Linked DNA regions of Homo sapiens: region 2 is linked to region 1. The links come from fine-mapping of genetic effects on gene expression. A gene starts in region 1. The other region holds a variant in brackets. All regions are shown on one strand. Distances are from middle to middle.

Region 1 (5,391 bases):
GTTCAGGAACGGTTGCCAATTTTTGTCAAAGGCAGTTTTAGCGTCTATGAAGATGAGTGAAGATGGTCATATGATTTTCTGCTTAGATATATGAACATCTAAATTATGTTAGTAGATTACCTAATATTGAACCATCCGTACATTTTTGGAATAAATGTCACTTGGTCATGATGTTTTATTTTTATGACGAGTTCTTGGGTTCTGTTTGCTAATATGTTTAGATTTTTCTGTATTCATAAGTGAGATTGATCTATAGTTTATTTTTTGTACTATATTTATATGGTTTAGGTGACAACATATTTCTTGTTTCATAAAACTTTCTTGTGGCTTTTCTTGTTTTTCTATACTCAAATGATTTAAGTAGCATTGGGAGTATATGATCTTTGAAGACTTAGGAGAATTCTTTTGTGAAATCTAGGCCTAGTCCTTCTGTAATAGCCTTCTCCATTTAGTCTATGGAAACTGGAAGCCCTTGTGTGATTTTGCAAAGCAGAATGTTCCCATTGCCTACAGTAGCTTCACTCTTCTTTACAGAGCAAGTAGCTATATTCTCTAGGTCTGGCTCATATATCATCTTCTCACTCCACCCCTCACTGCAGGACAGAATCAATCTCTATCTTATTTTAATTGCTTCCATAATATTATATTTGTCTTATAGATCTCATCAAATTTGTATTGTAGCATACCTACTTTTGGAGGTATACATTTCTTTCTCCAGTCTCTAAAAGACAGACACTGATTTGACCACATTTAATTCTTCAGCCCCCAAAATATTGGTCAGGCTTTCATAGGTATTCAATAAATATATTTTGAATAATAATCATGGAAGGAAGGAAAGAAATAATGGAAGACAAGACCACTATAGTAGGAACCATAGTCTTTTTTTTTTTTGAAACAGAGTCTTGCTCTGTCACCCAGGCTGGAGTACAGTGACACAATCTCAGCTCACTGTAACCTCTGCCTCCCGGCTTCAAGGAATTCTCTTGCCTCAGCCTCCCTGAGTAGCTGGGACTACAGGTGTGCACCACCACACCCAGCTAATTTTTGTATTTTTAGTAGAGATGGGGTTTCACCATGTTTACCAGGCTGGTATCGAACTCCTGACCTAAAGTGATCGTCCGGTTTGGCCTCCTAAAGTGCTGGGATTACAGGCATGAGCCACCACGCCTGGCCGGAACCATAGTCTATTAATAAAGTATGTGGACTCTAAGTCAGATCCACTGGAGTTTCTCCCCCAGTTCATCACTGACAAGTGTGTGACATTGGCTGGTTACTTTCTGAGTTTTGTTCTACTCATCTACAGGTAAAGTTTCATAAGGGATTTGTATTCTGAACATGTATACAATTCTTAACATTAAGTACTGTATGTTCCCAATAGATAATACTTTCTCTCTTACTTCTCCCCATAGGAAAGACTGCATTGTAGTTCTTTGGACAATTCCTGGAGAAATCATGAGATATGACTCTCTCACTTGTAGAATCACAGCAAAGGCTCCGTCCTACTGGTAAGTAGTTCCCTCTGAAATTGCCTGAATGAATGAAATTCTCCAGTTCAGGTGAACAACTCTGAGGATATGCAGGAATGTGTTGTGCTTCTGAGATTTTTACAACATTTGTTTTACAGAGGAAAGTTTACATTAGTTTAACATAGTTAGGAAACATGCCGTCTACTGGAGTAGAATACATTGTATTCTGAACAGTTTAGCAGTCCTCATACTTGGGCTTTCTTCCCAGTTCTTGTGCTATTTTCCCAGACAGCAAATTAATTAAATGGCCTTTGGCCATGACTCTTTCCCTTGAGTCAGCTTTTCTGTCATTTAAAGTGTACAGATAGGGGGGATTTAATTAGCCCAATGCCTGGCACATTGCATGCACTCAATAAATGTTTGTTGAGTATTCGAGTTATCTCTAGATGAAGGTCACTTTTGCTATTACTATTAATTTATAAGCATATCAGTAATTCTTGTGCTGATAATATTGACAGTGAACAAGCACTTAAAAGAAAAGTTAACTCATAACTTATAGGGATGTATCATGAGAATTCAGATAGTCAACAACCTATCTATTTTGAACATATTCACTATTCTTCTAATGTTCTAAGGCTCTAATTCTACACTTGAAGCTCAGATGATTCTAAGATAGTGAGGAACTGCAGCAACTATCTGGATATTTTCTCTGCAATGCGTGTGTGTGTGTGTGTGTGTGTGTGTGTGTGTGTGTGTGTGTGTCTGTCTGTCTGGTCTGTGTAAGCCCCGACTAAATATAGAGCCCCCATTCTTTGTGTAAGCTACTTAAGAGAAAGGATTTTATCTTCTAATTTTTATCTCTTCAGCAGAAGTTATTATTGCTAGTTCAATCCCAAATCTATACATAAATTACGAAGTTTAATAACCCCTTAAAAATAAGCTTTTTAAAAATATTTTTCCTGAAATAATGTTTTACTGACCTTGAAAATTTTTCTTAGCTGTTGTCATGCTCAACATTTCTCACTGATGACATATGTGGTGATGATGGTAGTGTAAAGAAAAAGCTTGAGGAAATACACACGGTGCTGATATTTTACTAAAATGAATGTAGCACTCACTCATAATTGTAATTTAATTTTTAAGTAAAAATCTGATTTTCCACTATCATTCCCTTAAGTCTGGCTCATTATAGGCCTAAAGCCTGTATGAATTTACACAGCTGCTTTGAGGCTTTGCATATTTCCTTGTTTTCGATTGTTTGATTTTTTTTTAAAGGGGTATTTTTGCACTGAAGTAAAACACAACTATTAACACTAGCCTCGGGGGAAAAAGAAACTAACAAACCTACAGCTTGAAATGTTTCAACACTTTGCATTTAAAATTTTGCGCACCCTTTAGAAGTTACAAAAATAAAAGCCACTCCCTGCAAAAAAAAAAAAGAAAAAAAGATTGAGAACAAACTGTCATGATTTCAGAAAACGATAGCAGACGTGCAGGTGCTAATACCAGAGAGCTTACCTCCGAATAAAATGGTGCCTTCTAAACAGCGACTATTTACATGTTTTAGAATCCTTTCTTGGGCATGGGTGCCTTTATATTGCCCTATTACCACAAGATGCAAGCCGTGCAGCAGAATGTTTTCTGTATGGTACCCAGCCAAAAGTGAAACAAGTTGCCCACTGACAGAGAGGCCATTTATAGAACATATTCATTTACACCAGTGCTAGGCAGCAACTGAAAGGCAATGCAAAGAAGTAATTTCTCTTTACCTTGCTTGGAGCAACTCTGACCTGGAGAGCCATGTACACATCCTACGTCAAGGAGGTGATGAAAGCCCCACTCCTTATAGCGATGACATCTGGAAGAAGACACAATTGTCACCGTGAGCTTTTCAATTACTCCTGGAGACTAAGTGTGAGACGCAGTAGTGCAGGATGATTGGATTACGCAAAACGAGACAGATGCCATCTGTGAGCCACGCGTAAGCTGCTAAGTGCCAAAATGAACATCCTTATTAAACGATGGAGTTCTCATACCATTTGTAGTTTGGTCAGATTTGAAAGATGAGTTGATTGTTTTTAGATAGTGCGGCAAATAGGCAGGGACTTGGAATCCTCTCTGGCTGTATGAGTAATTACTGTCTCATACTTAAATTAGAAACATGGGTTTTCAGTTAGGTCTTGAGATTGTTTCCAAAGGATGCTGCTGCATTCATGTTGAAGCGTGGCCTGTCCTCTCTGTTTCACTCACAAGGGCCACAGAGTTCTGAGAAAGAAATCATCAGTTCCTTTCACATCATGGCAAAGAAATGTAAAACTTATGACTTTTTGTTAGGAAACAAAAGGGTTCCCATACTCTAAAATAATGGCCACAATATTGTGGGTAGAATGTTTTCAAGAACTGCCAGGAGGCAGTATTGGAGCTCTGTCTCTCTGCGTCCTGAGGCTCCAGAACCAATCCTTCATTTACAATTCATTCTCCCATCTTTTTACTGGCACCAACTCTATTATTATTTTTATTTTAATTTTTAATTGCTGTGATTACATAGTAATATAGTAATATACCCCATAGAGTTTATGGGGTACATGATATATTTTGATATAGGCATCTAATATGTAATGATCACATCAAGGTAAGTGGGATTTCCATCACCTCAAGCATTTATTCTTTGTGTTACAAGCAATCCAATTATACCCTTTTAGTTATTTTTAAATGTACAATTAAATTATTATTGACTATAGTCACTCTGTTGTGCTATCAAATACTAGATCTTATACATTCTCTCTCTTTTTTGTATGCATTAACCATCCCCACACTCCCCCTTTTCTCCCACTACCCTTCCCAGCTTCTGGTAACCATTCTTTTACTTTCCATCTCAATGAGTTCAATTGTTTCCATTTTTAGTTCCCACAAATAAGTAGGAACATATGAAGTTTGTCTTTCTGTGCCTGGTTTATTTCACTTAACATAAGGACCTCCAGTTCCATCCATATTGTTGCAAATGACAGGATTTCATTCTTTCCTTTGGCTGAATTCTATTCTGTACCTGTACCACATTTCTTTATCCACTTGTCTGTTGATGGACATTTAGGTTGTTTCTTAATCTTGGATATTGTGAAACATGCTGCAATATACATGGGCATGCAGATACCTCTCCGATAGACTGATTTCCATTCTTTGGGGTATATGCTCAGCAGTGGGATTGCTGGATCATATGGCAGTCCTATTTTTCTCTTTTGAGGAACCTCCAAACTGTTCTCCATAGTGGCTGTACTAATTTACATTCCCACCAGCAGTGTATGAGGGTGTCCTTTTCTTCACATCCTCACCAGCATTTGTTATTGCCTGTTTTGGGATAAAAGCCATTTTAACTGGGGTGAAGTCATATCTCTTTGTAGTTTTGATTTGCCTTTCTCTGATGATCGATGATGTTGAGCACTTCTCACATACCAGTTTGCCATTTGTATGTCTTGTTCTGAGAAATGTCTATTCAGATATTTTGATCATTTTTAAATCATATTATTAGATTTTTTCCTCTACAGTTGTTTGAGCTCCTTATATATTCTGGTTGTTAGCCCCTTGTCAGATGGGTAGTGTTTGAGTATTTTTTTTCCCATTCTGCGGGTTGGTGTCTTCACTTTGTTGATTGATTGCTTTGCTGTGGCACCAACTTTAGATGGGAACTTAGCTGTGCCCTGTAATCCTTTTTCCATTACAGCATCTTGTTAACCGCTATAAAGAGCACATTCTGCAATATCTACCTGCATACCAAAAGCAAAGGTGAAAAGAGTGCCTTCAGCAAGTCCAGGCCTTGATAGTTTTCATCTGAATATGTTATTGAATTTGACATTCATAATGCATATTAATAACACTGTCAATGCTCTTTTATTAATATACCTTAGATAAATCTTTTAATGTGTGGTTG
Region 2 (5,391 bases), 23 kb before region 1:
GATATGTTCATATAATTCAGGAATAAATAAATCTAAGCAAACTCTATATTTTTCAAAGCAAAAAATAAAATAATCACCTTATGTCCTACTGTGCAGAAGTAATTTATTATCCAGCAAGCCAGTGATTGCAGTCGGTAAGCGAGACACCAAGGAAGCATGCCCCAGGTGCAATCTTTTTAAAGGCCTCACACATATTCCTCTTCAATTCTATTTAATTTAACTTAACACGTTTCAAAAGTTAAATACAGAATTCATACTAACTCCTTTTCTATTGCACAGGAATTCCTTTGATCAGTGGAGATCAGTTCAGCATGCCCTGCCACCTAATATCCAGGAAAGAACTGTCCTGTTGTGTCATATTGACACCATCTCTTTCCATCACATCTCATTCCTCCCTCCCCTACTGGTTTACAGAATCACGACATTATTGTAGGGAAACAGAGATGCCTCTTTTGTTAGCATTTAGAGATTTTATAGGTTAACTTGCAGCTGCTTGGAGATAGTGATTTTAGTCTTGTACAAGCTGCATTCATGTATATTAATAGAGAATACTTATGCTTTGTTCATGATAGGAAAGAAAGCATGACTTAAAGGAAGTAATACAAAATTTGAAGTCAAGATAACAGCATTCTAGTCTCGCTTTTACAGCATAACAGTCATAAGACCTTGTCTGGGCACTGTGGTTCACACCTGTAATTCCAGCACTTTGGGAGGCCGAGGTGGGAGCATCACTTGAAGCTAGGAGTTCAAGGCCACACTGGGCAATATAGCAAGACTCTGTCTCTAAAAGAAATTGAAAAAAACTTAGCCTGGCATAATAGTGTGCTCCATAGTCCTAGCTACTCAGGAGGTGGAGATGGGAGGATCTCTTGAGTGCAGGAGTTTGAAGTTACAATGAGCTATGATCATGCCACTGCACTGCACTCGAGACTGGGTGACAGAGTGAATCTCTGTCTCTTAAAAAAAAAAAAAAAGAGTTATGGAGTCACTTCCAAGATGGCTGAATAGGAACAGCTCTGGTTTGCAGCTCCCAGTGAGATCGACGCAGAAGATGGGTGATTTCTGCATTTCCAATTAAGGTACCTGGTTCATCTCATTGGGACTGGTTGGACAGTGGGTGCAGCCCATGGAGGGCAAGCTGAAGCAGGGCAGGGTGTTGCCTCACCCGGGAAGCACAAGGGGTGGGGCGATTTCCCTTTCCTAGCTAAGGGAAGCCATGACAGACTGTATGTGGAGAAACAGTGCACTCCTGACAAAATACTGCACTATTCCCATAGTCTTAGCAACCGTCAGACCAGGAGATACCCTCCCATGCCTGGTTCGGCAGGTCCCACACCCACGGAGCCTTGCTCACTGCTAGTGCAGCAGTCTGAGATAGACCTGCGACGCTGCATCTTGATGTGGAGATGGGCGTCTGCATTGCTGAGGCTTGAGTAGCTCACAGTGTAAACAAAGAGGCCTGGAAGCACGAACTGGGTGGAGCACACCACAGCTCAGCAAGGCCTACTGCCTCTATAGATTCTACCTCTTGGGGTAGGGCATAGTAGAACAAAAGGCAGCAGTCAGCTTCTGCAGATTTAAACGTCCCGTCTGACAGCTCTGAAGAGAGCAGTTGTTCTCTCAGCATGGCATTCGAGCTCCGAGAACAGACAGACTGCCTCCTCAAATGAGTCCCTGACCCCCGTGTAGCCTGACTGGGAAACACCTCCCAGTAGGGGCCGACAGACACCTCAAACAGGCAGGTGCCCCTCTGGGACGAAGCTTCCAGAGGAAGGATCAGGCAGCAATATTTGCTGTTCTGCAGCCTCCACTGGTGATACCTAGGCAAACAGGGTCTGGAGTGGACCTCCAGCAAACCCCAACAGATCTGCAGCTGAGGGGTCTGACTGTTAGAGGGAAAACTAACAAACAGAAAAAAATAGCAACAAGATCAACAAAAAGGACATCCACCTCAAAACCCCATCTGTAGGTCACCAACATCAAAGACCAAAGGTAGATAAAACCACAAAGATGGGGAGAAACCAGAGAAGAAAAGCTGAAAATTTTAAAAAACAGAGCACCTCTTCTCCTCCAAAGGATCACAGCTCCTCGCCAGTGAGGGAACAAAACTGGGTGGAGAATGAGTTTGACGAGTTGACAGAAGTAGGCTTCAGAAACCTACTTGGTAATAACAAACTTCTCTGAGATAAAGGAGCATCTTCTAACCCATTGCAAGGAAGCTAAAAACCTTGAAAAAAGATTAGATGAATGGCTAACTAGAATAAACAGTGTGGAGATGATGTTAAATGACCTGATGGAGCTGAAAACCA[T/A]GGAATGAGAACTTTGTGATGCATGCATAAGCTTTAATAGGTAATTCCATCAAGTGGAAGAAAGGATATCAGTGACTGAAGATCAAATTAATGAAATAAAGTGAGAAGACAAGATTAGAGAAAAAAGAGTGAAAAGAAATGAACAAAGCCTCCAAGAAATATAGGACTGTGTGAAAAGACCAAATATACATTTGGTGGGTGTACCTGAAAGTGATAGGAGAATGGAACCAAGTTAGAAAACACTCTTCAGGATATCATCCAGGAGAACTTCCCTAACCTAGCAAGGCAGGCCAACATTCAAATTCAGAAAATAGAGAGACACCACAAAGATACTCTTCGAGAAGAGCAATTCGAAGACATATAATTGTCAGATTCGCCAAGGTTGAAATGAGGGAAAAAATGTTAAGGGCAGCCAGAGAGAAAGGTTGGGTTACCCACAAAGGGAAGCCCATCAGACTAACAGTGGATCTCTTGGCAGAAACCCTACAAACCAGAAAAGAGTGGGGGCCAATATTCAACATTCTTAAAGAAAAGAATTTTCAACCCAGAATTTCATATCCAGTCAAACTAAGCTTCATAAGTGAAGGAGAATTAAAATCCTTTACAGAGAAGCAAATGCTGAGAGATTTTGTCACCACCAGGCCTGCCTTACAAGAGGTACTGAAGGAAGCACTAAACATGGAAAGGAACAACAGGTACTAGCCACTGCAAAAACATGCCAAATGGTAAAGACTTTAGACGCTATGAAGAAACTGCATCAATTAACAGGCAAAATAACCAGCTAACATAATAATGACAGGATTAAATTCAAACATAACAGTATTAACCTTAAATGTAAATGGGCTAAATGCCCCAATTAAAATATACAGACTGGCAAATTGGATAAAGAGTCAAGATCCATCAGTGTGCTGTATTCAAGAGACCCATCTCATGTGCAAAGACGCACATAGGCTCAAAATAAAGGGATGGAGGAAGATCTACCAAGCAAATGGAAAGCAAAAAAAGCGGGTTACAATCTTAGTCTCTGATACAACAGACTTTAAACCAACAAAGATCAAAAGAGACAAAGAAGGCCACTACATAATGCTAAAGGGATCAATTCAACAAGAAGAGCTAACCATCCTAAATATATATGCACACAATATAGGAGCATTCGGATTAATAAAGCAAGTCCTTAGGGACCTACAAAGAGACTTAGACTCCCACACAATAATAATGGTAGACTTTAACACCCCACTGTCAATATTAGACAGATCAACAAGACAGAAGGTTAACAAGGATATCCAGGATTTGAACTCAGCTCTGCACCAGGCAGACCTAATAGACATCTACCGAATTCTACACCCCAAATCAATGGAATATACATTCTTCTCAGCACCACATCGCACTTACTCTAAAATTCACCACATAATTGGTAGTAAAACACTCCTCAGCAAATGTAAAAGAACAGAAATCACAACAAACTGTCTCTCAGACTGATCTCTCAGATCACAGTGCAATCAAATTAGAACTCAGGATTAAGAAACTCACTCAAAACCTCACAACTACATGGAAACTGAACAACCTGCTCCTGAATGACTACTGGGTACATAACAAAATGAAGGCAGAAATAAAGATGTTCTTTGAAACCAATGAGAACAAAGACACAATGTATCAGAATCTCTGGGACACATTTAAAGCAGTATGTAGAGGGAAATTTATAGCACTAAATGCCCACAAGAGAAAGCAGGAAAGAGCTAAAATTGACACCCTAACATCACAATTAACAATAGAGAAGCAAGAGCAAAAAAATTCAAAAGCTAGCAGAAGGCAAGAAATAACCAAGATCAGAGCAGAACTGAAGGAGATGGAGACACAAAAACCCTTCAAAAAAATCAGTGAATCCAGGAGCTGGTTTTTTGAGAAGATCAACAAAATAGACCACTAGCAAGACTAATAAAGAAGAAAAGAGAGAAGAATCAAATAGATGCAATAAAAAATGATAAGGGGGATATCACCACCGATCCCACAGAAATACAAACTACCATCAGAGAATATTATAAACACCTCTGTGCAAATAAACTAGAAAATCTAGAAGAAATGGATAAATTCCTGGACACATACACCCTCCCAAGACTAAATCAGGAAGAAGCTGAATCTCTGAATAGACCAATAACAGGTTCTGAAATAGAGGAAATAATTAATGGCCTATCAACCAAAAAAAGTCCATGACCAGATGGATTCATAGCCAAATTCTACCAGAGGTACAAAGAGGAGCTGGTACCATTCCTTCTGAAAGTATTCCAATCAATAGAAAAGAGAGAATCCTCCCTAACTCATTTCATGAGGCTAGCATCATCCTGATACCAAAGCCTGGTAGAGACACAACAGAAAAGGAGAACTTCAAGCCAATATTTCTGATGAACATCAACGCAAAAATCCTCAGTAAAATACTGTCAAACCGAATCCAGCAGCACATAAAAAAGTTTATCCACCATGAACAAGCTGGCTTCATCCCTGGGATGCAAGGCTGGTTCAACATATTCAAATCAATAAACGTAATCCATCATGTAAACAGAACCAATGACAAAAACCACATGATTGTCTCAATAGATGCAGAAAAGGCCTTCAACAAAATTCAATAGCCCTTCATGCTAAAAACTCTCAATAAACTAGGTATTGATGGAACGCGTCTCAAAATAAAAAGAGCTATTTATGACAAACCCACAGCCAATGTCATACTGAATGGGCAAAAACTGGAAGCATTCCCTTTGAAAACTGGCACAAGAAAAGGATGCCCTCTCTCAGCACTCCTATTCAACATAATGTTGGAAGTTCTGGCCAGGGCAATCAGGCAAGAGAAAGAAATAAAGCGTATTCAATTAGGAAAAGAGGAAGTCAAATTATCTCTGTTTGCAGATGACATGATTGTATATTTAGAAAACCCCATTGTCTCAGCCCAAAGTCTCCTTAAGCTGATAAGCAACTTCAGCAAAGTCTCAGGATACAAAATCAACATGGAAAAATCACAAGCATTCCTATACACAAATAATAGACAAACAGAGAGCCAAAACATGAGTGAACTCCCATTCACAATTGCTAC

Evidence for each region. PIP is the estimated chance that this variant, and not a neighbour inherited with it, causes the effect.
Region 2: its variant is the best candidate, but not a certain one, in a credible set for the expression of TMEM244 in whole blood (INTERVAL, PIP 0.68).

What each region holds. Positions count from the first base shown.
Region 1 is chr6:129,857,921-129,863,311 of GRCh38, forward strand. It overlaps TMEM244 (transmembrane protein 244), which reads right to left and starts at 3,395. Exons shown (of 5, transcript NM_001010876.2): 1 at 3,236-3,395. The coding sequence starts at 3,268. It overlaps LOC105377999 (a long non-coding RNA gene), which reads left to right. Exons shown (of 8, transcript XR_942986.3): 2 at 1,410-1,505.
Region 2 is chr6:129,834,446-129,839,836 of GRCh38, forward strand. The region is part of intron 3 of TMEM244 (transmembrane protein 244); the gene reads right to left. Among named protein-coding and RNA genes, the nearest start is that of TMEM244, 24 kb to the right of the region's middle. The variant T/A (reference allele first, on the strand shown) is at 2,310.